4 linked regions of the Homo sapiens genome follow. The protein of the gene in region 4 purifies or fractionates together with the protein of the main gene of each other region. This does not show direct contact. Each region holds a gene or a part of one and is shown on either strand. Other genes may lie near its edges. The genes, in order: TIMP3, COLGALT2, NELL2 and COLEC11.

Evidence for each region.
Region 1: the proteins of COLEC11 (region 4) and TIMP3 purify together in Homo sapiens (affinity purification with mass spectrometry; 2 studies listed by BioGRID and IntAct, with this or other methods). This does not show direct contact.
Region 2: the proteins of COLEC11 (region 4) and COLGALT2 purify together in Homo sapiens (affinity purification with mass spectrometry; 3 studies listed by BioGRID and IntAct, with this or other methods). This does not show direct contact.
Region 3: the proteins of COLEC11 (region 4) and NELL2 purify together in Homo sapiens (affinity purification with mass spectrometry; 3 studies listed by BioGRID and IntAct, with this or other methods). This does not show direct contact.

What each region holds. Positions count from the first base shown.
Region 1 is NC_000022.11:32,853,678-32,860,704, reverse strand, and holds part of TIMP3 (metalloproteinase inhibitor 3 precursor), read right to left. Parts: intron 3,457-7,027; coding exon 3,345-3,456; intron 2,689-3,344; coding exon 2,567-2,688; intron 1,526-2,566; coding exon 1,328-1,525; 3' UTR 1-1,327.
Region 2 is NC_000001.11:184,034,721-184,041,928, reverse strand, and holds the start of COLGALT2 (procollagen galactosyltransferase 2), read left to right. Parts: upstream 1-4,200; 5' UTR 4,201-4,571; coding exon 4,572-4,834; intron 4,835-7,208. UniProt on the Homo sapiens protein: Beta-galactosyltransferase that transfers beta-galactose to hydroxylysine residues of collagen.
Region 3 is NC_000012.12:44,866,315-44,873,341, reverse strand, and holds part of NELL2 (protein kinase C-binding protein NELL2 isoform b precursor), read left to right. Parts: intron 1-7,027. UniProt on the Homo sapiens protein: Plays multiple roles in neural tissues, regulates neuronal proliferation, survival, differentiation, polarization, as well as axon guidance and synaptic functions.
Region 4 is NC_000002.12:3,591,130-3,598,112, forward strand, and holds the start of COLEC11 (collectin-11 isoform a precursor), read left to right. Parts: upstream 1-3,982; 5' UTR 3,983-4,039; intron 4,040-6,983.

The sequences.
Region 1 (7,027 bases), on a different chromosome or scaffold from region 4:
TTGACTACACTCTCATCTGCCATCTGAGCTAAGCCAGGAAGGCAGTTAAAGAAAGGCCCCCAAACATGAAGCAGGGACAAGGAGACGGACAGGGGTCAGATGACCCATGATAGGGAAGAGAGGGTGCTGACGGTGTTCAGAATTTCAAATTTTAATTAAAATGAAAAAAAAATGTCAACTTGGAATGTCATGATTTTCTTCAAACAAGCAACGACAACAAAATAGAAGAGATTAAACTATTGGCATATTTAACAGCATTGAACAGAATTCTGTGTCCTGTAAAAAAATTAGCTTATGTCCCCATGTGGGTATATGCAAATGTGTATACAAACATATCCCCCTAGGTGAGCTAAACACTATTCTGGAAATAGTATCCTCTACCCAAATCTACTTGGCTATATCTGTGGATAGTGTATGGTGTGTGTATTTATCCAATTTACATAAAAGAAAGCTCCTGGCCAAATCTACCAAAGCGTTTTCCAGGAGGAAGTCTGGTGGGAGGCAGGGAGAGGAAAGACATTCATCTCAGTCTTTCACCTGAGCTTTTGTACAAGGCAGGCAAATTGCCTCCTGACCTCAGGCAGATGTTTAAGTCTTCACCAACTAAGAAAGCTCTGTTATTCTGGCCTGGGTGCTTGCTCCAGACTCAGGAACATCTGGTCAACACAAGCATCACTGGGCTGGGGAATTGTGTGTGTGCTGCATCATCTCCGACTCTCTTGTAGTTCCTTCCTTCCCTCCCTCACTCTTACATGCAGACACAGACAGACACAGTCTGGTTGGGACATGCAGTGGCAGCTCCTGGTGTATAACATCTTTCACACACCTTGAGTCTATCTGCTTGCTGCCTTTGACTGATCCTGAAATGGTTGGCCTTTCAGCAAGTTCCTTGTCTGTGTCCTTTATGTATTGGAGGAGAAGGGCAAAGGGAAGAGGGTCTGGGAGATGGTGAGGTGGGGAAGAAGCAAGAGGGGTGGGAATTACAATCCTCAAATGGAGTAGTTTTTCATTTTTGTTTTCCTAAAAAAATAGAGATTATATTATCACGAAGAAGAGGAATACAGGTTCCTCATTCTTTCTGGCATGGCACCAGAAATTCCCAGGTGGAAATGAATGATGTCAAAACCAAAAAGAAGGGGCAGGGTGGGGCCAGGAGGATAGTTCCCAATAAACCCCATATGACAGCATAGACCTTTCTTTAAATGTTCCAAGTGCTAAATTTGCAAGAAAACAGGCACTAATTTCATTGTCATCATCTGGGAAGAGTTAGTGTCCAAGGGAAGCTCAGCGGGAAGGGAGGGAAGTGAGGTGGGGCAGGGTCTGGCGCTCAGGGGTCTGTGGCATTGATGATGCTTTTATCCGGGGGGGCCCATCCTCGGTACCAGCTGCAGTAGCCGCCCTTCTGCCGGATGCAGGCGTAGTGTTTGGACTGGTAGCCAGGGTAACCGAAATTGGAGAGCATGTCGGTCCAGAGACACTCGTTCTTGGAAGTCACAAAGCAAGGCAGGTAGTAGCAGGACTTGATCTGCAATTAGATAACAGGCAGCAGTTGATGGACTCTGCCATGGTATGCCCAGGCCTGAGGCTACCGAGCCTGGATTCAGACCCTGGGGCCACTGCATGGGAAGCCTAGCCACATCAGTCCCTCAGTGATCATAATATAAATAGCACTAGCTTGAGCATCTGCTGTCTAACAGACATTCTGATAAGTGCTTTGATATTATTCTCTTTAATTCTTATCACAGTTTTAGGAGGCTCTGAGAGGTTAAGTAACTTGCTGCAGGTCACACAGCCAGTAAGTAGCAGAATTAGACTACTGAGAGGACTTTTTCGTCTCAGGTGGGAGATCTCAGTTGTTTTAGGGAATCGAGGAATTAGAAAGGTTAGAGCATAAACTTTGGAGTCTAGCTGCCCTAGGTTGGAAACCAGATTCAGTGAACTGTGGGACCTAGGGCTAGTTACTTAAGTTCTCTGAGCTCTCATCTGCAGAATGGAGATCATAGTAATTAAAACCACACAGGACTGTTTTGAAGATGAAGTGAGAGAATGGCCCAACTTCCTCCCACAGCAGGCAGGCTGCACCTTGGCCCTATACTTGGGTCAGGGGGATGGGCCTGGTAAAGAGAGACCTTCTGTAGCATCTGGTCTCTGCAGTCCTGGGCCCATTTGCCTACCTGGGGTGGGGTTAGCGATGAGTCAGCTACCAGGGTGAGCCCACTTGAAACCACTTGGGAGAACCTGCCAGTGTCAGGATCCTATACCTCCAGCCTTGAACTGCCAGGTGGGGCCAGGGACTCAAGAGCCCTCATGCCCCAGCAGCTTCCAAGTGGTCATCATGGAGGCAGCCGATTACAGCAGAAAGGCATTCTTCCTTCCCTGCCTTCCTCACTGCCCCACCTGGGGCAACAATCCTTACTATATCTGCTCAGACCTGCCCCTCTGCCCTGGCCTAACACATGCATACCCTTCCCAGCCGAGGGCCTGGCACCCAGTGCATTGGGAGCTGATGTTTCTAGGGCTGCAAGTCAGCACCTCCCCTCCTTCCCCCAGTGACCCCAGAGCTTACCTTGCAGTTACAACCCAGGTGATACCGATAGTTCAGCCCCTTGCGCTGGGAGAGGGTGAGCTGGTCCCACCTCTCCACGAAGTTGCACAGCCCCGTGTACATCTTGCCATCATAGACGCGACCTACAGGAGGAAAGAAGAAAACAAGGAGAGGTTGTTTTGTCCAGAGCCTAGCCCAGAGAGAATTCACACCTACTATGTTCCCACTTAGCCCAGGCACTGTGGCTGGGTACTTTTCAGACCCATGATTTTATTTCACCCTACCCAACACCTTTTAAAATGGACTGTAGCCCCATTTTCCAGATGAGGATAATGAGGCTTGGAGAGGTAAAGTGATTTGCCAAAGGTCCCAAGCCCATTAAATACTGGAGCTAGGACTAGAGGCCAACTCTTCACTCCCTTTATAATGATTTTTGTTTTTGTTTTCTCCTTTACTACACTGACTGCCTAAAGATGAATAACTTTCAAAGACGGGCCTAACAGGTCGAGTGTGAGGTGGAGAGGAACAGATACTCCCTTTTTATTTACAGTAAAGTTGAGAAGCTACAAATTAGGAGATTTCCTCCCCCAGGTGAGTGGTGGAGCTAATTCCAAAGTCCAGCCTAAGTGTAGGAGCCTCAAGCTCCTAGCACTGGGTAAGTGGGATGAATTCAACATTAGAGACTCCTTACAATTTACTGGACATTTGGTGAGTCAACTACTCCGTATGTGTTCTTCTGAAGTCAAGAAACAGTGGACCTTGGCCAAACCCTGGCCTAGAAGCTAGAGTTGGCCATTACCTGTCAGCAGGTACTGGTACTTGTTGACCTCCAGCTTAAGGCCACAGAGACTCTCGGAAGCTTCCGTATGGATGTACTGCACATGGGGCATCTTGGTGAAGCCTCGGTACATCTGTGGGCAAAAGGAACATCATGACTTCTTCTTTCCCAGTTTGGACACCCGTATGATCCCTAATCCCACTGCTGGGTATGTATCCAAAGGAAAGGAAATCGGAATATGGAAGAGGGGTCTGCACTCTCATGTTGACTGCAGCAATATTCACAATAGCCAAGATATGAAATCAACCTAAGTGCCCATCAACAGATGAATGGATAGACAAAACCTGGTATCTATACCCAATGGAATATGATTCATCCAGAAAAAAGAATGAAATCTTGTCATTTGTGGCAATGCAGCTGGAACTGGAGGTCGTTTTGCTAAGCGGAATAAGCCAGGCACAGAAAGACAAATACACCATGTTCTCACTCATGTGGGAGCTAAGAAAGTAAATCTCATAAAGATGGACAGTGGATTGGTGGTTACCAGAGGCAAGAAAGGTAATAAGGATTGGGGCAAAGAGATATAATTAATGGGTACAAAAATACGAGTACGCAGAACAAGTAAGACCCAGTGTTCATTGAATCAGTAGAATGACTACAGTAAACAATAACTTATTGTATATCTCAAAGTAGCTAGTAGAGGATAATTCAGATGTTCCCAGCATGAAGAAACGATAAATGTTTAAGGTTATGAATATCCCAATTACCCTGATTTGATTACTATACATTTTTGAATATATCAAAATACCACATGGACTCTCAAAATATGTCCATTTATTATGTATCAATAAAATAAGAGGAACACAGGAGAGGAGTCTCAGTACCCAGAAGGCTTGCTGACATTGGATCTGAGGGAATCTCGCTCCCCTATTCAGCTGTCCAGTGGCCGGTCACTGATCTACCCACCCCAGGGCCCCCTTCACCCCAGATGAAGCCACCGATCCTCTTGACTAGCCAGGTTGGTGCCTTCCCAGAGAAACCTTCCTGTGCAGCCAGCCATACCCCCCATTCCAACTGCCCCACAACACTCCTTCGGCTACACATGTCTGACATCCCAGCACCTTTTCAGAAATCCAGAGAAGTAGCTGTGACAAAGGTCCTTTTTCTTTGTCAACCTTAGGACCTGAGTCCCGTGAACTCAGCCAGCATTCTCATGATATCTCTGTGACACTTTCCAGCCCACAAAAACATTCTCACTCACATTCTCCTTGCAGTATCCTTAAAAGAGCCCTGGGAGGGATGTATTACAAACCCCACTTTATAGAAATTCTATTTGGCTGGTGAACGTTGAATTCAAGCTAGAAATTCTCCATGTTTTTTATTCTTCTGAGCGTCTGGTGAAAGCATTGGGTTCGTTTATCCCAGATGAAGCACATAAATGTATCTACAAAGTTCAAAGAGTTTTAACTGTTAAATACTTTATAATTGTTAGATTGAACCACGTGAAATTGCTGATATTTGGCTATTTGTATCTACGACATAATCTAATACAGTGGTTCTCAACTGGAGGCAATTTTGCCCCCCTAGGAAATATTTGGGACATGTGGCAATGTCTGGAGACAATTTTGGTTGTCACAACAGTTCGTAGAGGGTAGGGAGGTTGCTAAACATCCCATAATACTCAGGACAGCCCCCAGAACAAAGAATTATCCGGCCCCAAATGTCAATGGTACTGAGGTTGAGAAATCTCCTTTAATATTAGCCCACGAATCACCATGACAACCCTATGAGGTAGGAACTATTATGCCCATTTTATAGATGAGGAGCCTGAGTCACAGGCAGGCTAAGTAGCTTGTTAAGGCCACACAGTTGGGAAATGGCAGGGCTAGGATTCCAAGCAGAGGACTCTGCCTTCAGAGTCCATACTCTTACCCATTATCTTAGACTGGCTCCCAGGAAAGCCTCAGAAGTCTATGACCAAGGTCCCCAGAAGCAGGCAAATGCTATTTCCATTTATGGCCACTGTGCCTCCTTCAGAGGCACAGTGTGTGCCCAGAGTCACTGGGGTGAATGAATGTAACAGAAGCTGAGTCCGCTTTGTGATTCCAGGTCAAGTCCATGAGTATTACACAAGCCCAGTGTGCCAAGGCGATACTGTGAACTGTGAGATTTGGTAACGGGGGCGGTGGGGCACCAAGGTGTTGCACAATTCTGTTATCCCCTCAGTTCTCAGCGTACACAAGCCCTGGACTGCTGGTGGTCTCTGGGCTTGTCCCAAGGGTTTATAATAGGAAAATGCCTCTACTTTACTTCCTGGCATTTGGTATTAATTTACCTACAGTAATTAATACAAAGCCAGACATCTCTTCATTGGTGTCTCTTCTAAATGCCTCCCATTTGGCCTGTGAGCTGGCGTTTTCTCATCTTTTAAGTGGTGACTGGTTGGCGGGGGTAGGTGGTCCACAAGACCTTCATAGCATAACTTGGTCTGTTGGACCTACTGAGTTTGGGCGCCCCTGCCTTGTTAAAAGCACACATTGTTCTGATGGACTCAGATGGTCTTCCTTCTGAACCTCTCTTCTCCCCCAAGGCTTGCCAACTGAGCACGGTAACGCAGCCAAGTGCTGGAAGAAGTGCCGTCCACACTCAGCATTCAATTACGCGGTGGGGGCGCGGGGTGGGTAGAGTCACGATGATGACTTCTTCTATGTGAATGGTGCCTCTCTAGCCTTAACAGGAACCATGTTTAAGCGTGCTGCTGTATGCCTGCCATGGAGTGTGGCCTTCGAAGAACATCCCCTACCCTGACTTCTGTGCCGAGCAACTTCTTATTTTTGTGTGGGTGTTCCTTGAGGTTTTGGCAAATGTTTCAACTAAGCACTCGCTCTAGGTCTTTTGGACCCAGCCCATGGGAACCTCATTCCTTCTGCGTCAGTCTTTCCCCTTGACTGCCCTAGTGCTTCGTGGGTGAGAGAATGAAGCCCCTGGTTACAGTCTGGTCATTTGAACTGCTCAGTAAGAACTCAACTCATCGAAATCAGCTTGGCACCGCAGCTACTTGGAAGTTTGAAGGAACCTGCATTTTAGCTCCTAGCACTTGCCTAGAGTCGAAATTCTGACACATTACAAATGACTGGCTCTGACAAACATAGCGCTGTGTTTTAGGGTCAATTCTGAAAAGAACAACATGGCAAAGGTAGATTCTACTCAGTTGTGTTTTCTGTGTAATAATCCTACCTTGATTTAAATATTGATTCTAAAAGTATCATGTCTGTAATCATAGAGATCTAGAATTGGTTTGACAAATTTAGGAGAGTTATAATAGGTTTATAATGTCCTGACATCAGAGAATCCTAGAATCTCAGAGTTGGAAAAGATGTTAAAGGTAATCTAATCCAAACCAATGCCATGGAGATCAGTGGTAAATTCAGGTTTTGGAGGCTGACAGCCAGAGTTTGAATCTTCAATCTTCTCTGCCACCTGTGTTCGCCACTTGGAAAGTTACTTAACCTCTTTGGGTCTCAGTTTCTTCATCTGTAAAATGGGTCAAAGCACTTCTTAGGGTGTTTGAGAGAAGCAAATGACTTAGAATAGCAGTCAGCCCACAACATTCAATAAAAGTTAGCTTAGAACAAGTTATACTGAAATTCGTAAGGAGAGGAGGAATGAGTTTGGTCCCCTTTCTCCTAAGTCCCTTCCTCAGC
Region 2 (7,208 bases), on a different chromosome or scaffold from region 4:
TTTAAGGGATGCATCTATTCTTAAATGAGACGTAGAAGTGTAGTTTACATTTGTATAAACTTGTTTTGAATTGGAAAACATTCCTCCGTAGTGACTATTCTATAGCTCTTGGATGCAGCCAGAGCATAGACAAAACTTTGACACTGACGTAGTTTAATTTTAGCCTTTCCCACCTCAGTCACTGCTCTTTTTCTCCCTTAATATTAATTCCCTTCCTAGGACCCAGAGTCCTCGGGCCTACGTATCAGAAATCCATAAAACTTGCTTTGTCACCAAAGAGACCCATGCTTCAAATTAGGATCCCATTCAGTTCCCTTTATCAAAACTTCTTATAGGCCATTTCAGTTTAGGTGATAAGATTTAAAAATCTGATTGAATTAAAAAGATATCATCTAATGCTCCTCTCTCAAGGATTTTCATGTTGAAATTGGCAGAATTGTCAATTCAAGTACATTTTACATTGTAGGATTTTAGGATGGATCAGAAAAGCGAGTAAAACAAACCAGGTAGTGAAAGAAAGATATTTCAGTACAGAAGAAAGAAGCCTGGATAATTCAGCCAAGAGACTCTTTCTGCCAACTATGGCCCAGCAGGACTTACGAGGGGCTGGCCACTTTCTCCCTGTTTTTCCAAGGGAGAAGCATTCAAATATTCAACACTCAAATGATTGGCATTTAGCAATTTCATAAATGTTTGTTGAATGAAAAAATGAGGCAAGCATTTAAAACTTTTTTACCTAGGAAGGAATTGATGTTCAAAGAGGTCAAGTTTCCAAGGTCACAAAGAGAATAAGTGACACCAGTGAAATGAAAATTCAGCTCCAAGTGTCAGTTGCTCTTTCAAGCCTATCACAGCTGCCCCAGAGGCATTTATTTCCTCCTCTTCTGGGCTGCTGGAGCCACAGACATCTTGAGAAGCTTTCCTGCAAGAAGTCCTCTGGCCACCTCATAGGCCCTGTCCCCACCACATTGCACTAAGGGTGACAGTCCAAGAGGTTTTGTTGTCCCAGATGGAAGTCCCCTGTGCTGGAACAGTATGGGGAGGGGATATGAGAGAAAGTGCTTACTTCTAACTTTATGTAGAATCAATTGGAACAGTCTACTGGCAGTGGAGACAAAGAGATATGTGTGTACAACCCTGACTTTCCATTCAGCCGATTTTCCATGGAAAGAGCATTATAAGCAATGAATATTTTAAAATATAATTGGCTTTTATTTTTAAATTAGTTTTTTTTTTCAAATTAACTGTCTTATAACATCAATCCTATGCGGGGGGGAAACATCCAAATTCACATTACTGATTTCTGAAGAACTTATGAAACAAATCTGTTAGTAAGATGGGGACTTAATTTTTCCCAGGCTTCCCCTCCACTGCCTCCCAACCATATTTACAATGATCTTCTACTGTTGCATACCCTGTTATTACCTTAATATTCTCAGTCACTAAATGAGCACTCAATTAAAAGTTTTAAATAGGTGTTTTGTAGGTTATGTGGCTGGGAAACCCTTGATTTCATCTACAGAGCAGAGCAGGTTGTAGTTATTTTAAGAGAACTCCATGGAGCCGATTTCATTATAATGTCATTAGAGACCATACAGGTTTAGATGCTTCACCTTTCTTTGAAAAAATAGACTCAGATAAGCTGTTGACTTTAGGTAACTGTATTAGTCTGTCCTCACGCTGTGAATAAAGACATAGCTGAGATTGGGTAATTTATAAAGAAAAAGAAGTTTAGTGGACTCACAGTTCCACATAGCTGGGGAGGCCTCACAATCATGGCAGAAGGCAAAGGAGGAGCAAAGACACACCTTACATGGCGGCAGGCAAGGGAGCATGTGCAGGGGAACTGCCCTTTATAAAACCATCAGATCTTGTGAGGCTTATTCACTATCACGAGACTAGCATGGGAAAAACCTGCCCCCATGATTCAATTACGTCCCACGACACGTGGGGATTATGGGAGCTATAATTCGATGTGAGATTTGGGTGAGGACATAGGCAGACCATATCAGTAACAGAAGGAAAATAAGACAGAAATGTGGTTGCCTAGCTTTAAACTCCCTCTGTTTGCAGTAAAGTGAACAAATGATAACTATCAAACCAAGTTTGGCTAAGGAGTGCGGATTTTAGTATTGAAAGATGAGTGGGACATAGTTCAAGAAAGGGAAACAAGAAAGACAGAACAACATGGAGATTGTCTGGACCTTTCTAACAGTCCCATCACTACCTCCCTTGTGGAAATGACCACATCTTCCTCTATCCCTTCACTGTAGCTGGTACATCTGTTACAGTACTTCTAACAGATGTTTAACTCTCAGTCTTCCCTACAAGACTGTGAGCCCCTTGAAAGTGGGAACAATTCCTGAAAATGGATGGAGGGGAAGGAAATGTCTGTAGGCCATTCGATAAAAAAATATGAAGATTAGAGAAGAGATTAGAGCAGAAGACATAGATTTTGAGGATATAACCACAGGAGACCATATGGAGTGGGAAGACTAGCACACTATAGGGAGGCACACAGTGAAGGGGCTTGGCTCAGAGACAAGTAGTATCAGAGGAGATCTAGGATGGGAGATTATGTAATCGAAGTCCAGGAAGGTGAGAACGGAAGAGTTTACTGAATCTGCCAATGCTGAGGCCATCTGTTGGTTTTGCAGAACAGTGGGGAGGGCTGACGCCTTACTGCACTGTGGTGGGAAAGATGGGAGATGAAGAAGTGGAGAATACAAGTATAGATCTCTCTTCCAAGGAGCTTGGTCAAGCAAAGGGATGACTAGAAGAAGACACAGGACTTTTTTTTAAAGCTTTTCTTTCTTTTTTTTTTAACGGATAAGAGAAGACTGACCAAGTATTTAGCTTGAGAGAAAGGAGTTGATAGAGATCAGTTGAAGATTCAGTAGAGAGTGGAATGATAGAGAAAAATCATGGGCTAGAAAGGGAGACCTCTCCCTTTCTAGTCTGTGATCAAAGACCCTGTCGTGAGGAGGCACCTGCAAGTAAGAAAGGTCTTGGTAGGGATGCTAGTTGGAGACAGTGGTGTTGGGGGAGCTGGATGAAGGAGGTGATATACTTCAAAAGACAGTAGGGAAGACTTCTAATAGTTGCTGAGAAGGATTGATAACAACTAATAAAAAGACTATGGGACAGACCTGAGGGTGAGTTGGGATTGGAGATCATGAATGTGCACTGGCACCAAAACACCCTCCATACTTATCTATCAAAGGCTACACAATATATCTTCAAAACTAAATATCCAGCCGAGCATGGTGGCTGATGCCTGTAATCGTAACACTTTGGGAGGCCGAGTTGGGCAGATCACTTGAGCCCAGGAGTTCCAGACCAGCCTGGGCAAAATGGTGAAAACCCGTCTCTACAAAAAAAAAAAAAAAAAAAAAAATTAGCTAGGCGTGGTGATGGACACCTGTGGTCCCAGCTACTCGGGAGGCTGAGGTGGGAGGATTGCTTGAGCCCAGGAGGTCGAGGCTGCAGTGAATTGTGATCGTGCCTCTGCACTCCAGCCCCGGCAACAGAGTGAGGCCCTGTCTCAAAAAAAAAAAAAAAAAAAAAGTAAATCTCCTTTAGCAGTGTATGCCAGCAGTTTCATTTTATGTGCTAATTGTGTTCTTCCTTCACCCCTTCTTTTCTTCCTTATCTCTTCTCTGCTCTCCAACATGCGCGAATTTTCCCTCTTTGTTACTCTATCATATTGGCTTATTACGGAAAAAGAAAACCAGCTAAGTGAATTTATTCTTTCACAGCCCTCCTGTGAGGAGGCTTACTGGGTTCACAGTAGAGTGAGGCTTCAGGACAGTGTCTCCCAAGGGCTTTCTTTTATTTTGCGGGGTCTGATCTGGCTCCAAAATTCTCCAAGTCTTCAAACTTTGTGTTATTAGGTGTCTACTCAGTCAAGAATGAATTTCAGAAGTTGAGTATATAAGAAAATGCGACATGCTGCCTTTGCGGTGGTTAAACAAGTGTTTGTCATAATCGTGAATAGTTGGGGAGACTTTTCATTTTAGAACTCTACTCAGTCAATAGGTGCATTATGAAAACTGGATACATTGCATCACTGTGAAGGGCTTCAGTCTGCGGTTTGCAAAAGCAGAATAAATTTTCTTGGGGTTGTACCGTTATGTACACACACACACACACACACACACACACACACACACACTCACAGGCTCATTGGCAGACAGGGCCACAACTCGCGGCTCTAGGGAAGGCCACAGACCTCAGCTGTACGAGCGGAACCTGGACTAGAGGAACTTTCCTCAGGACTCAGGGCACACAGCCCCTCGGCCACTACTGTCTGCGAGCCCGAGGCGCAGGGGAGCGCCAGCGGCTGCAGGTACGCTGCGCACCCGCACTGGGGCCTGGGCGGTGCAGCGGCGGCGGGAGGGTCCTGGGAACCGCAGCCGCCGAGGCCAGTGTGTGAGCCGGCCGGCCGCGGCAAGCCGCATCCCCCGGCCGCCCCTCGCAGCCCCTTGCTCCCCGGCAGCCGCCGCCGCCCTCAGGCAGCCCAGCCGGGCGCTCGCGCCAGGACTTCCCCGCCGCCCGCCTCGGCCCGGAACATGGCTGCGCGCCCTGCTGCCACCCTCGCCTGGTCGCTACTGCTCCTCTCCTCAGCCCTGCTCCGCGAAGGCTGCCGAGCGCGCTTCGTCGCCGAGCGGGACTCGGAGGACGACGGAGAGGAGCCGGTGGTTTTCCCGGAGTCGCCCCTGCAGAGCCCCACGGTGCTCGTGGCGGTCCTCGCCCGCAACGCGGCGCACACGCTGCCGCACTTCCTCGGCTGCCTGGAGCGGCTGGACTACCCCAAGAGCAGGATGGCCATCTGGTGAGCGCGCACGGGCCCCGGGCCGCCGCGGCGGGACGCGGGGGCGGCCTGCCCAGCGCGGACAGCGCCCGGAGCAGCAGCTGCAGGGCGAGGGAGCCGCTGGAGGGGCGGGGGGGCACGCGGAAAATCTGGCGCACACACCCCCTCGCTGCCCGCGCCGGTGGCTGGCGGATCGGGCGGTCAGGCTGCGGAGGGACGCGCGGGTCAGTGTGCGCAGAGGGTGCTGATGGGGAGAACCGGACCGCTGGAGCTCTGGAGGGTAGCCTGCGAATTGGGGCTTTGTCCCACAAGGGGCATGGGGGACACCCCTCAAGGGGACTTTCAGTTCCCTCGCTTTTAACTCTCGAGGTTTCCTCTTTCCCCACCTCATACTGCTAGCCCTGACGTGAGGGGATAGGGTGCCTGTCGCCGTATTCCCATGTAGATACGACAGATGGAACGTAACTGCGGTTGGCCAGGGGCTCCGCAGTGGCTGGGGCGCCGCAGTGCGCTGCTCTGACTTTCCGGTGCCGGGCTCCTGCTCCAGGCTGGAAATGTGCTCCTAGCTCTCCTAGGGGGACCTGGACCTAGGGGTGGAGATTGGGCGGAGCCCGCGGAGTGTGCCCAACCATGGCACCACCGTGGGCCTGGTCTCCTGCGAGCGCTCCGGGCTGTCCCTGCCGGTGCATCGGGGTTCCACGTCCCGGGGAGAGACGAAGATGCCCTGGGAAAGATAAACAGCCAAGTTTTGTCCCCGGAGGAAAGAAGCTTGGACCTGGTCCCTGTGTCTGCTGCGGGGAGGGCCAGGGGATAAGTGCGGGTGCCTGCCCGCCCCACCTTGTAGAACTTGGTCGTCTCGCACCTTTTATAAACGCGAGGATCCGAGGGCGAGAAGTTAGTTGGTGGCCAGGTTAGCCGCTGAGTGGGTTGTGGAGGACAAGGAGGTGGATGCTGGCCAGGGGAGATGTGCTGTCAGGTAGGTACTCGGACAAGAAGACTCTGGCCCCCTGAGGAAGACAGAGCCCAGGTCACTCTGGAGCAATTTCTGTCTTGTGTTGATAAAGGGAGCTGTTCTCAGGCGAGACACATCCTTAAAGCAGCGGTTGGGCAAAGAGAGGAAGAGGAGTAAAAGCAGCAGCTAGAATTGGCAGCCTCAGAGTACCTGGTGGGAGAGGTGCAAAGGTGCGAAAGCAAACATGTGATATAGTACAGCTCTGTGCTGTACACTGCTTTACTATATACCCTGCCATACGTGACCGCCTGGCGGAGAAGGGCATATTATGTGGAAAGAGAGCACTGGGACAGCCAGGCTTTAAACCAGAAGGAAGGATTTTTTTTTAACCACTTCGGTACCAAAAGAAATTCACACATATCAGTTACCTTAGTTGTTGTGTTTTTTTTAAGAGATATTTTAAAATATGGTTTTGATCTTTATGCATGATTTAGTTTTTTAAAACGTTACAGTATTTACCATAAGAAGTTGGTGAGTGGTGAAGCAGGTGTCAGGCACATGCTTTGCTACCTGATTTAGAGACATTACCTCTTTTTATCATACAGTAAACTTTTAAGAGGATGCTATGATGTTTATTTTGCAAAGAAAGAGACAGACTTGCATCAGTTCAGTAAGTCACTTAAAGTGACAGAATTAATAAATGGTGAAACTGGAATTTGAACCCAAGGCCACCCTAAAAAGGCAGGAAACATGATATAAACAAAATTTACATAAGCCTATAATCTACAAATTAGGAGACTTGAGTTGTTTATTACTAGTTTGATATGTGATTTGGGGCTGGTTGCTTGGGATCCATAGGCATCAGTTGCCTCATCAATAAAACGAGGGAGTTGGAATAAATGATTTCAAAAATTCTTTATGGCTCTTGAATTCCATAGATTTTGCAATATAATTAGGATCAACCAGCATCAATGTACATCCTAAGTTCCCTGTAAGTTCCAGATGGTATGGACACTGGTGTCTTACTTAGATGAGAGAATTCCAGTTCTGCATAGACCTTTGAAATCTGTTGTCTTTTATGTCCAGCATTGGCAGGTTAAGCAAGAAGTGCAAGGCCATGCTTGCGTCAGTCATTGAAGACTCTTCTTTGAAAAATTTTGGTTCTGTCTTTAAAACATTGTGTAATTCTTTAGGTAACAATAATACAAATCCCAGTTTCTAAATAGTTCTTTTCAGCTCACAAAGGAGCTGTAAAGAACCTTTGGAAATAACTTCCATGCACTGTTAACTCATTTGATTCTTACTGCCATTCTGTGAAGAAATAAAATTATCTCTATTTCCCAGAAGAAGAAATGTGTTTAAAGTGATTGACTTACTCAAAATTACATTTATTTATAAATTCCACACATAATAATAAGAGCTCGTGGTTCTTCTAAGAACTTC
Region 3 (7,027 bases), on a different chromosome or scaffold from region 4:
AAAATGTTTTGTTTGAATTGTCCATAGTAACTAGATATCCATGTACATTGATGAATTGGTTGTTTTTCCTTCCTTGTTGATGCCGAGCTCAATATTTAGACAGAGTAAATGCCTAACAAATATGGTTTATGAGATTTGAAGGTGTAAAATTTCATTTTCTGCCAAATTATGGACTTTATTTAATATAACCAATCAATCAGCAAGTATTTCCTGCATGCCATGTTCTCAGTAGGCATATATTACTGATGTATTGATTATGCTCTTGTGATTTCTTTTATTCTAAGATTCGGATTATGAAATTGACAAAAGGTGGCCCTTTGGCCATGCATGGAATTTCGCATTACCTTGGCAAGGTCTTTGCTAATAGCATTTGGAAACTTGTTAAGAAGTCAGTTCCGAGTCTTGCTGCTTCATTGAGATTTCCTTTGGCTTTAGAGAGAAAAAAATATACAGACTGAAGATTTTATAGATTCTATTTACAGTGAGTTGAGGGTGCTGCAGATATTTTGTACGGTATATACATATACACTATACATAGTCATAGCAGGAATAGTAACAAATTACAAAATCCGTGAGATGCTCTCAGGTTTCATATGAACCTATCATATAAGTTTCTTTGTGCTATCAGATATGTTCTAAATAGATGGAAGAGATTTTTGGACCATCAAATTTTTCCTGCAGTAATGTAACCATCTTCTTCTGTCTTTTAGCTTTAAAATAAAGAAATCTCAACATATACTTTCCCAGTGATTTTTGCTCATTTAATATTGCTTTTCCTTGTGCCAGTTTTTCTCCTTAGTGGATTTTGAGATGCATGCAATTCAATACCTTTTGAAACTCGTAAATTTATTATTATCTATACCTAATAAAAACAAATGGAAATATATTTTAAAGTCATATGTTTTAAAAATAATAATAGCAACTATAGTATCACTAAAATGGTTTTGTTGTTGTTGAAATTTGATTTATAGTTGTTTTGGAAATTCAAGTAATAAGATGCTAAATTAGATTACACCTTAATAAATATGGCTTTTGATCTTTGCCAATTACCATAATTTTCAAAAAAGGAATCCAGGCAATTTTCTAGTCATTTCTAGCTATAATCTGACTTGCAGCCACAAAAATACACTTATTATGCTTTTAAAAATTAGAGGAGTGAATGTAGACAATAAAAAGACCTATGAAAGGTTATAAAGGGTTCTACTTTCTAAAATCTAGGAAGTATTCCCCAAGATAATGATCATAATAATGTTTTTTTCCTCTCTGTACATGAGGGATCAGGAATGAGAGTATACAGAAGCACCATTCTAGGACTTTCTAGCAATGTTAGCATGATTTTTAGATCTTTGATTTTAACAATTAATCTGGCCAGGTTCCCAAAGTAGATAATTTCCTCTGTTGGTTTAATACAATTTCTTCTGAAGTGTTAACAGATTTTATAATCTCATTAATCCATAGAAGAGAAGTGGATAAAATCAAAGCATGTTTTTTTTACAAGTTGTTAAGTTGAAAATAAGCTTAGTAGTTATTTGTAAAAAACTTTAAGGTTTTAAAGGGAAAAAAAGGTCGTACGTCTCCTCTTATGCCAGTGTTACGCAGAGTGAAATAGGCATTTGGTAATAGACCATGGACTTTAGTAGGCAAAGGTAACTGCATTGAGGAAATCGAGGTGGCACTAATTTGTCTTCAGTATGATGGTTGGTGAGCATCTGTGGACTTTGAAGTGATGGCTGTTGGTGCCCAAATAGTGTGGAATAACACAGTGTTTAAGAGATGCACTTAGAAACAAGATAGACTGAGGTGGAATTTCATTAGTTGTTTTACTGTGGTGAAGTTACTTAATTTCTCTAAGCTCCAGTACCCTCAATTATAAAATGATCATTGTTATGACAATTAAGCGAGTTACTTTCATTCTTTCAAATAAGTTATTTTTGGGAAACTAGCATACTGCTAGGTGTTAGGCACATAACAAATGAAGACGTTAGAACTTAACTTTGATTTCATAGTGTCTTAAAAATAGCCGTTGAACAATTACATAGTTACAGACCTAATCACCATTAAGATAAATTATATGAAGAAAAACTGAAGATATAATGGGAATCTATATTTTAGTTAGGGGAGTCTCAGGCTCAGGGAAACCATCTTTGAAGAATAGTCATTTAAGCTGATAGTTGAAGGATATGTAAGAGTAGTCCAAAGAAGAGAAGCTATGGGGATAGGCAAAGGGACTAGTGTGTGAGCAAGGTTCTGAGCATGGGATGAATGTGCATTTGAGAACGTGGAGGAAGTCTAGAGAAGTAGAAACATAGGGCATGTGATATGAAATAAAGTATATGAGGAAAGCAGGAACCAGGTTACATGGTAGGCTATACTAATAGAGCAGAATTGAAAATTTATCATTATGGAAATATATATTATGGTGGGCAGAATAATGGTCCTGCATAGATGTTCATGTCTTAATTCTTGGAACCAAACAATAGGTTACGTTATACAGCAAGGGGAAGTTAAGTTTGCTCATCAGCTGACTTTAAGATTAGGAGGCTATCATAGGTTATCTGGGTGAGCCCTGTGTAATCAGAAGAATCTTTTGAAATGGGGAGAAGGAAGCAGAATAGTCAGTGTAGAGTGATGTGATATGAGAAAAACTAGTCTGGCCACTGGTGGCTTTAAAGGTGATAGTGGGCCACAAGCCAAGGACTGCAGGCAGTTTTTAGATGCTGAAAAAGGCAAGAAAATGAGTTTTCTCTTACAGCCTCCAGAAGGAATGTAGTGCTACTGATACCTTGATTTTAGACCAATGAGACTCATTTTGGACTTCTGATCTCCAGAACTGTGAGATAATAGATTTGTGTTGATTTAAGTCACTAAGTTTGTGGTGATTTGTTTGAGCAGCAATAGGAAACGAATACAAATTTTCCTGCATGGAAGTGTGGTGCTGGTGTAAGAAATACCTAAAAAATATGGAAGTGGCTTTGGAACTGGGCAATGGGCAGATGCTGGATGAATTTTTAGGAGCATGATAGAAAAAGCCTAGATTGCCTTAAATAGACTTTCAGTAGAAATATGGTTATTGGTGACTCTATTATTGAGGACTTAGAAGAAAGTGAAGAGCATGGTAGAGAGAAAATCTAAATCACCTCTGAATATTCCTAAATTATCATAAGCGAGCATTGGTTAGGTATAGACATTGAAGGAACTGCCATTGAGGGCTCAGATGGATATAAAGAATTTTTATTATAAACTGAAGGAAAGGGGACCCTTCTTACACAGTGGCAGAAAACTTAGCTGAATTGTACCCTGTGGTTATGTGGAAAGCAAAACTTGTAAACAATGAACTTAGATTTTAGCTAAGGTGATTTGTAAGCAACAAAAGTGTTGAAGGTGCACTCTGGCTTTTTCTTGCTGTTTGTAGTAACGTGAGAGGAGAGAGAGAGATTTAGGGAATAATTGTTGAGCAAAACATATTCATAACTTGATATTTGAGAAATTATCAACCTATTCAGATTCCAAAACATGTTAAAATAGGATATTCACTGTTAGGAATACCTAGTCTGAAAAGAAAGCCAAGGATGTGACTAGAAAATATTTTGCTAGTGCCTCAGAAATATCAAAAGGTCAGAGTATTCAGTTACATTGAGGGCTCTTTGAAGAACATATGACTCATAGATCCCCTCAACCATTTCAGCAGAGGTCACAAATAGAGATGGAATTATCCAAGAAATATCTATGGAGGAGCCTTTTTTGTTTAATGGAGTGAATCCCCATGACATACATGGGAGATCTACAAGGTTCTTAAGAATATTATGGCAGTAAAATTGCTGCTGGTGTGGCCTGAAAGAATCAGTGAGAGAATAAAATGAAAGAAGGTGTTGGATCCCCAAAATTCTACAAGCAAAAAACAGGCTGACTTGGCTGTCAACATCTTTCTATGAAGCTACCTTTCATGAAAAAAGAAGGTTAATTCAAAGGGCAGAACTCAGAGCCCAGAGCATGGAGCTGACTCCAGAGGGTGGAACCAATAATTACAGAAGCTTATTTCTAGACCTTGAAACCAAGTGGTGTTTGCCTGGCTGGATTTTAAAGTTGCTTGGATATGGCAATTGTTTTTTTTTCTTTCTTCCATTTTCTCCCTTTTTGAATGAGAATATTTAGAACTATCATCTTTATCTGCCTTACCATTGTGTTTTTGAGAGCAGATACTATGTTTCAAGGTGTGCCTCAGAATGGATTATATGCAGCGCCTTTCTCATACCTGTTTTAGATGATTTGGATGATGAGATTTGAGACTTTTGTTTTTGTTTTATGTTTTGTTACTTAAAATTTAATTATTTTTAAATTGACAAAATTGTATACATTTATTGTGTACAACACAATATTTTGAAATATACATTGTGGAATGGCTAAATTGAGCTAATTAACATATTCATTACCTCATGTACTTATAATTTTTTTTGGTGAGAACACTTAAAATCTATTTGAAATTTTGAAGAGTACAATGTATTATTACTATAGTCATTATGTTGTACCATAGATCTCTTGAACATATTGTGCCATCTAATTGAATTTTGGTCCTTTGACCAACATCTCCCCAACAACTATCCCCCATCCCCAGGCCCTAGTAACCAGCATTCTACTTTCTGCTCCTATAAGTTCAACTTTTTAAGGTCCCACATATAAGTGAGATCATGTGGTATTTGTCTTTCTGTGAAGGGCTTATTTCACTTTACATAATGTCTTCCAGGTTGATCCACGTTGTCTCAAATAACAGGATTTTCTTCTTTGAGGTGGAATAGTATTCCATTGTGTACATATACCACATTTTCTTTATGTGTTCATTTGCATTCGTATGTTCTTTGCAGCATTATTCATAATTGTCAAGATGTGAGATCAACCTAATTAATGGTCACCAATGGATGAATGAATACAGAAAAATGTCATTGGAATTTTAATAAGGGTCGCAGTAAATCTGTAGATCATTTTGGATAGTGTGGAAATTTTAACAATATTAATTCTTTGAATCCATGACCAAAGCATATCTTTTCATTTATTTGTGTCTTCTTCATTTCTTTCATCAGTGTTTTATAGTTTCAGTATACAGCTCTTTCACCTTCTTGATTAAATTTATATGTAAGTATTTTATCTTTTTCATAGCCATTGTAAATGAGATTGTTTTCATGATTTCTTTTTCAGGTAGTTCATTTTTTTTTTTTTTTTTTTTTTTTGAGATGGAGCCTCACTGTTTCACCTAGGCTGGAGAGCAGTGGTGAGATCTAGGCTCACTGCAACCTCTGCCTCCTAGGTTCAAATTATTCTCCTGCATCAGCCTCCCAAGTAGCTGAGATTACAGGCACCCGTCACTACACCCGGCTAATTTTTGTATTTTTAGTAGAGACAGGGTTTCACCATGTTGGCCAGGCCAGTCTTGAACTCCTCACCTCAAGTGATTGGACCGCCTCGGGCTCACAAAGTGCTGGGATTACAGGTGTGAGCCACTGCACCTCACCAGTTTATTGTTAACATAGAGACACTACTTTTTGTTTGTATATTGATTTGATATCCTGAAACTCTACTGAAATCATTTATTAGTTCTGACAATTTTTTGGTGGCATCTTCAGGATTTTCTAGATATAAGATGATGTCAAATGCAAGCAGGGATAAGTTAACCTCTTCCTTCCCAATTTTGATGCCTTTTATTTCTTTCTCTTGCCTAATTGCAAGTCTAGGACTTACAGTACTATGTTGAATAGAAGTGGCAAGATTGGGCATCCTTGTCTTTTTCCTTATTTTAGAGGAAAAACTTTCAACTTTTTACTGTTGAGTATAATGTTAGCTGTAGATTTGTTATATCTGAACTTTATTGTGTTGAGATACATTTCTTCTATACATTTATTGAGAGTTTTTATCATGAAATGATGTTGAATTTTGTCAAATGTTTTCCTGCATATGTTGAAATGATCATGTGGATTTTGTCCTTTATTCTGTTAATTTGATGTATCACATTTATAGATTTGTGTATGTTGAGCCATTCTTGCCTCCTTGGGATAAATCCTACTTGATCATGGTGAATGATACTTTTAATGTGCTGTTGAGTTTGGTTTGCTAGTATTTCGTTGAGGATTATTTCATCTCTGTTCGTCAGCAATATTGGCCTGTAATTTTCTTGTAGTATCCTTATTTGGCTTTGGTGTCATAGTAATGCTGGCCTTATAAGATAAATTTGGAATTTATTCCCTCTTCTTCATTTTTTTGGAAGAGTTTGAGAAGGATTGGTATTGGTTATTTAAATAGAGTTTAGCAGTGAAGCCATCAGGCCTTGGACTTTTCTTTGATGAAGGACTTTTTATTATTGATTCAATTTGCTTACAAGTTATTTGTCTGTTCAGATTTTTCATTTTTTCATGATTTTGTCTTGGTAAGTTGTATGTGTCTAGGAATGAATACATTCCTAGACATATACACTTAAACTTCTAAGTTTATCTAATTTGTTGGCATATAATTGTTTATAGTAGTCTCATGATGTTTTGTATTTCTGTGGTATCAGTAATAATGTCTCTTCTTTCATTTCTGATTTTATTTATTTGAGTCTTCTCTCTTTTTTCTTAAATTTCTTAGCTAAAGGCATGTCAATTTTGTTTATCTTCATTAGAAAACAACTCTCTGTTTCATTTATTTTTTCTATTAATTTTAGTCTCTCTCATTTATTTCTGCTCTGATCTTTATTATTTCATTCCTTTGGTCTTACTTTGGTCTTATTTTGTTTTTCTTTTTGTAGTTCATTTATTTGTAACTTTAGGTTATTTGTTTGAGATTTTCTTCTTTTTAAATGTAGGCATTTGTTGCTATAAACTTACCTCTGAAAACTGCTTTTGCTGCATCCTTTATGTTTTGGTATGTTGTGTCCATTCTCATGTGTTTCAAGATGTCTTCTAATTTCCCTAATTTCCCCTTTCCTTCTAATTTCCCTTTTAATTTCTTTTTTGACCAATTAGTTGTTCATGAGCATGTTAATTTTTATGTATTTGCAAAT
Region 4 (6,983 bases):
CTGACCCCCCCTCCCCCCTCCCGGACGGGGCGGCTGGCCGGGCAGAGGGGCTCCTCACTTCCCAGTAGGGGCGGCCGGGCAGAGGCGCCCCTCACCTCCCGGACTGGGCGGCTGGCCGGGCGGGGGGCTGACCCCCCCACCTCCCTCCTGGACGGGGCGACTGGCCAGGCAGAGGGGCTCCTCACTTCCCAGTAGGGGCGGCCGGGCAGAGGAGCCCCTCACCTCCCGGATGGGGCGGCTGGCCGGGCGGGGGGCTGACCCCCCCCACCTCCCTCCCGGACGGGGTGGCTGCCGGGCGGAGACGCTCCTCACTTCCCAGACGGGGTGGCTGCCGGACGGAGGGGCTCCTCACTTCTCAGACGGGGCGGTTGCCAGGCAGAGGGTTTCCTCACTTCTCAGACGGGGCGGCCGGGCAGAGACGCTCCTCACCTCCCAGATAGGGTTGCGGCCAGCAGAGGCGCTCCTCACATCCCAGACAGGGCGGCGGGGCAGAGGTGCTCCCCACATCTCAGACGATGGGCGGCCGGGCAGAGACGCTCCTCACTTCCTAGATGGGAAGGCGGCGGGGAAGAGGCGCTCCTCGCTTCCTAGATGGGATGGCGGCCGGGCAGAGACGCTCCTCACTTTCCAGACTGGGCAGCCAGGCAGAGAGGCTCCTCATATCCCAGACGATGGGTGGCCAAGCAGAGACGCTCCTCACTTCCCAGACGGGGTGGCGGCTGGGCAGAGGCTGCAATCTCGGCACTTTGGGGGGCCAAGGCAGGCGGCTGGGAGGTGGAGGCTGTAGCGAGCCGAGATCACGCCACTGCACTCCAGCCTGGGCACCACTGAGCACTGAGTGAACGAGACTCCGTCCGCAATCCCGGCACCCCGGGAGGCCGAGGCTGGCGGATCACTCGCGGCTAGGAGCTGGAGACCAGCCCGGCCAACACAGCAAAACCCCGTCTCCACCAAAAAAAAAAACGAAAACCAGTGAGGCGTGGCGGCGTGCGCCTGCAATCGCAGGCACTCAGCAGGCTGAGGCAGGAGAATCAGGCAGGGAGGCTGCAGTGAGCCGAGATGGCAGCAGCACCGTCCAGCCTTGGCTCGGCATCAGAGGGAGACCGTGGAAGGAGACCATGGAGGGAGACGGAGACGGGGACGGGGACGGGGACGGGGACGGGGACGGGGACGGGGACGGAGACGGAGACGGAGACGGAGACGGAGAGCTGATTCCTCCTATTTTATTCTTTTTCAAAATTGTTTTAGCTATTCTAGTTCCTTTCTCTTTTCATATACACTTTAGAATAGCCGTGTCTATATCTACAAAAATTATTGTTATGATTTTGATAGAAATTGTGTTAAGCTTGTACTGTATATTAACTTGGGGGAGAATCAACATTTTTACTCTGTTGAGTCTCCCAATCTATACTTTTTAATTTTCATTTTATTATTTTTGAAACAGGGTCCCACTCTGTCACCCAGGCTGGGGTGCAGTGGTGCGATCTCAGCTAACTGCAACATCCACCTCCCGGGCTCAAGTGATCCTTCCACCTCAGCCTCCTGAGTAGCTGGGACCATTCTACTATGCCCGGCTAATTTTTGTATTGTTTTTGTTAGAGACAGGGTTTCACCATGTTGCCCAAGCTGGTCTTGAACTCTTGGACTCAAGTGATCCTCCCACTTCAGCCCTGCAAAATGCTGGGATTACAGGCATGAGCCACTGTGCTTGGGGTGAGTCTCCTAATCTATGAAGACGACGTGTTTCTCTGTTTATTCAGATCTTTTTTGAGGTTTTCAGCAGCATTTTGTAGTTTTCAGCATGTAAGTTCTATATATGTTTTGTTAGATTTACACCTAAGTATTCCTTTTTTAAAGCAATTGTAAATGATATTATTTTGAATTTTGGTGTCTATGAGTTCATTGTTATTTTATAGAAATCTGCTTGGTTTTTCATTGTTTATTATTTTTTTGAGACAGAGTCTCGCTCTGTCACCCAGGCTGGAGTGCAATGGCACAACCTCAACTCACTGCACCCTCTGCCTCCCGGAGTCAAGTGATTCTCCTGCGTCAGCCTCCCGAGTAGCTGGGATTGCAGGCATGTACCACCATGCCTGGCTGATTTTTGTATTTTTAGTAGAGATGGGGTTTTGCCTTGTTGGCCAGGCTGGTCTCTAACTCCTGACCTCAGGTGATCCTCCCACCTTGGCCTCCCGAAGTGCTGGGATTACAGGTGTGAGCCACCACGCCTGGCCTACTTGGTTTTTTAAATGTTTGCCTTGTATCCTGTCACCTGTCACACTGATTTAATAGTTTCCAGGAGCTCTTTTGTAGACTCTGGGATTTTCTAAGTAGACAACCATGTCATCTGCAACAAGGGACAGAGTTATTTTATTTTTCGAATCTACATGCTGTTTATTTCCTTTTCGGGCCCTGCTGGTGTGCCTAGAACTTTAGCACTGCATTGAGTAAGAGGTAAGAGTGGACACCCTTGCCTTGTCTTGATCTCAGGAAGGAAACATTCCATTTTTGCCCATGAAGTATGATGTTAGCTGTGGCTTTGCCTTTGACAGATGCTCTTTATCAAGTTGAGGAAGGTCCCCTGCACCTATTTTTCTGAGAGTTTTTATCATGAAAGGTGTTGGTTTATGCCAAATGCTGTTTCTATATAAATTGAGATATTCATTTGATTTTCTTTGTTAGCTTGTTAATGGGTTTTTATCAAAGGAGCTTTGAATATTGACATAGCCTCACATTCCTGGATGAAACCCCATTTGGTCATAGTTGATAAATCTTTTTCTATATTGCTGAATTCTGTCTGTTAATATTTTATTAAGGATTTTCTCATCTATATTCATGAGGGTTATTGGTCTATAGTGTTTTTGTTCTGTCTTTGTCTGGTTTTGGTATCAGGGTAATAATCAACTTTATAAAATGAATTGGTAAATATTCCCTCCTCTTCTATTTTCTGGAAGAGGATGTGTAGAATTGGTGTTAATTTTTCTTTAAACGTTTTGTAGACCCTCCTGTGAAACCATCTGGCCCTGAAATGTCTTTCTGGGGAGCGTTTAAATTGCAAGTTCAATTCCCTTCCTTGGCATAGGGCTGTTGAATTATCTGTTTCATGCTGGGCATGTTGTAGTTCGTGTTTTCAAGAAGTGGTTCATTTTGTCTAAGTTGTCAAATTTATGTATAACTTCAATAATACGTTTTAAATAAAGAATCCATTATTTTTCCTTAATTTTATTATGTGTGTGGAATTTGTGTTTTTACAGTTTTATTTTATGATTTCTCAGTCTAAATAAATATTCACCTTTGAACCTAGCTTCTTATGATTGTAATTTTATATGTATCTTTTTCTTAAAGAAGGTTCCGCTATCCCCCAAAACATGCAAGATTCGGGCTGCATAGAAGCTGGATCTGTCCAGCCCCTGACTAACATTTGTTTCTGGCATTAAATGAAACTTGCCTTTAAATGAAACTTAAATGCGTAGAGTGAGTTTCCGGACTCACGTGTGGCCAGGTCTCCACAGGCCGTGGTCAAGCTCTTGCTGACTTTTGAAGCGAAATCCCATATGAACAAAGGAAAGGAGATCAGTCAGCTGCCCTCGTTTCTGTCTGATTGGTGCCAGGTGATGAGCGTCCCTCCTCTTTATGCTCTTTTGAATTTCCACAGTAGTCATGCTTATTTTTTCAAAAAACGAAAAGAAAGAAGAGAAAGCCAAAAAAGAAACAAAATTGGGATGTTCGGGTTGGAGAGTTAGCAGGGGCATCTCCAGGAGGGTCCTGCCCCCCACCCCAAAGCCGGCCTCAGGGAGTTCCAGGCGTTCCCACACTCCCCAGGCAGGACGGTGGACGCAGCGCAGACAGGAAGCTCCCCGAGATAACGCTGCGGCCGGGCGGCCTGATTTGCTGGGCTGTCTGATGGCCCGGGCCGAGGCTTCTCCCTGCGCCTGGGACTGCGGCCGCCTCTCTAAATAGCAGCCATGAGGCGCCTGGGGGCAGTGTCCTCGCGGGCCAGCGACGGGCAGGACGCCCCGTTCGCCTAGCGCGTGCTCAGGTAGGAGACTCTGCCCGGGGCTGCAGCTGAGGGTTTCACGGGGCTATGACAGTGCAGAGGGGAGGCAGGCAGGCTTCCAAACTGGGCGCGAGGTGGGCTCCTGCTGAGCGAGGAGGATGGGAATCTGTCCCTAGATCCAGGCAAAAGATTGAGTCTCAATAAATCTGGCACCAGAGTTCCAAAGTTTGATTAGTTCATGGCGGAAATTCGTGGAGCCTATTGATGAGATGGGATCCGACCCATGAGAGGTGCTGGATGATGGAGTCACCCTCTTGGGTGGCAGATTTCAAACAGCCCAAGGCCCAGGGGGCTAAACAGTCTTCGCTAATTCCAAACCGCAGTGCAGTACCTGGTCTCACAACCTGACGATTGTTCCTGAGCCTGAGCAGCGTCTGACGGGCCAGGCGGACAGCAGCCACGACTGCCCCCAGGGACCAGTGGCTCTGTGTTGGGCTCAGGAACGGGGATCAGAGAGGTGGGGGAAAGGTGGGCCTTGCTTTGGCAACTTTCCAGGGAAAGACTTTGAGTTCAGATGGGGTCATCTAAAACCAAGTGGGGTCATCTTGTCTCCAAAATTGGAAAGGAGGAAAGTTTCCTAGGGCCGCTGCCTCCTACCTGGATGCCTTGCGCTAGGAACTGGCGGTCTTTTTAGAGCTGAGGTGATGTGGTCGTTCTCAATTTAAAGATGAACGTTTAAAGCCATCTCATGTGCATAGCTGGAATTTTGGTTTGATGGGAAGCACTTTGCCTGTGGTAGGCAGAGCACTGCCCCAATCTTTCACAGCTATTCGATTTTGTTTACAATTTTGAAAAATCCATGTACCGTAGAAGAGAGCACACCGGTAATGTGCTGACCGCTGGGGGAAGATAAGAGAGGATAGGTGCCTTCTTACTCTGTGCTCTTGGTAAGAAGCTAAGAGGAGCGTGTGCTGTTGTGGGTGGAATCCAGGCTGCCCCAGAAGGTGCTCTGTCACTGTAGGGAGGGAAACACCGCGGTGGGGCTGGGGCAGTCCCCAGTGAGAGGAACCTCCTCATGCTTCAGGGATGTGGTTCTTAGGAGGTATTTGTGGTGCCTGTAAGATGCTGGGCCTTGCTGTAGATACTTAATGAAAAAGTAGAATAGCATGTTTGGCAACTGAAGCCATGATTTTTTCTCATTGTCTATTTCATTTTTTTTTTTTTTTTTGAGATGGACTCTGGCTCTGTCACCCAGGCTGGAGTGCAATGGCACCGTCTTGGCTCACTGCAACCTCCGCCTCCCAGGTTCAAGCGATTATCCTGCCTCAGCTTCCTGAGTAGCTGGGATTACAGGTGTGCATCATGGCACCTGGCTAATTTTTGTACTTTTTAGTGGAGAGGGGGGTTTCACCATGTTGGCCAGGCTGCTCTCGAACTCCTAACCAGGTGATCTGCCCACCTTGGCCTCCCAAAATGCTAGGATTATAGGCATGAGCCACTGGGCCTGGCCCCATTGTTTATTTCATTCATAACATGTATTTCCTCTCAGGATTCCACGTTTAACCCCCTCTCCCCTGCTTGTCAAGTCTGCCCCTTCCATTGATGGGAGGGCCCTGAGCGTCTTGGGCCCTGGCTGGGAGATAAGGATGTTGTTCTTAAAGAGGTCCTGGGGGTAGCTGTGGCTTCTCCGTTTACAAAATGGAATTCCTCTTCTAAGAAGGCAGTCAGAGGGCGAGACCTCTGGGAAGCAGAGACTCCTTCGGGCGCCTGGGTGCCCTCACCCTGTGCCTACCTGCCCTGGTTCCTGCTGTGCGTCTGAGAGCGCCCCGCTGCAGGGCCTGTGCCTCCTTTGTGCCCATAGGCCTAGCTGGGGCCCCTCGCAGGAAAGTGGACAGAAACTCTGTGAATGGGCAGCGGGGTCAGTGAATGAGTGGAGCGAGTGAAGGCATGAGAAATCCCAGCCTGGGCTGTTCCGGGGATCAGTGGATGAGTGAAGTGAGGGAAGGCACAAGAAATCCCAGCCTGTGCTGCTCCGGGGTCAGTGAATGAATGGAGTGAAGGCACAAGAAATCCCGGCCTGGGCTGCTCCGGGGTCAGTGAATGAATGGAGTGAAGGCACGAGAAATCCCAGCCTGGGCTGCTCCGGGATCAGCAGATGAGTGTGAGTGAAGGCACGAGAAATCCCACCTGGGCTGCTCTGGTGTCAGTGAATGAATGGAGTGAAGGCATGAGAAATCCCACCTGGGCTGCTCCGGGGTCAGCGGATGAATGGAGTGAAGGCACGAGAAATCCCGCCTGGGCTGCTCTGGGATCAGCAGATGAGTGTGAGTGAAGGCACGAGAAATCCTGCCTGGGCTGCTCTGGGTTTCTCTGCTCACTACTCACCCCTTTTCTTGGGAGACGGAGCCTGATCTTTGTTGAAGCCACTCCTGGGACATCTGCGGAGTGAGGGCAGTAAAAGCCTTGCTGAACACCTGGTTATACCTGAACAGAATCACTTCTAGCTAGAGGGGAAATTCCCATGTCAGCCTTTGATTCCTGAGACATTAAAAAAAAAAAAAACTAAACCCAGTTTGCATCCAGCAAACACTGAGAAGTGAGGTTCGACTTGCGTACTGAGTGGGTGGGGAGGAAGAGTTTACTATTGCTTTCAGAAGCCACATACCACAAGGAGCCAAAATACTGCTGCTGAGGCAGGAGCCGGGGAGACTACGGTTATGAGCCCAGTGGACCAGCACGTCTGGCTACAAACCTTGTGGTGCCCCTTGTTTTGACATTATTTTTGTATTTTTTATTTTTATTTTATTTTATTTATTTCATTTTTTTGAGACTGAGTCTCACTCTTATCACTCAGGCTAGAGGGCAGTGGTGTGATCTCGACTCACTGCAACCTCCACCTCCCGGGTTCAAGCGATTCTCCTGCCTCAGCCTCCCGAGTCACTGGAATTCCAGGCACCCGCCACCATGCCCAGCTAATTTTTGTATT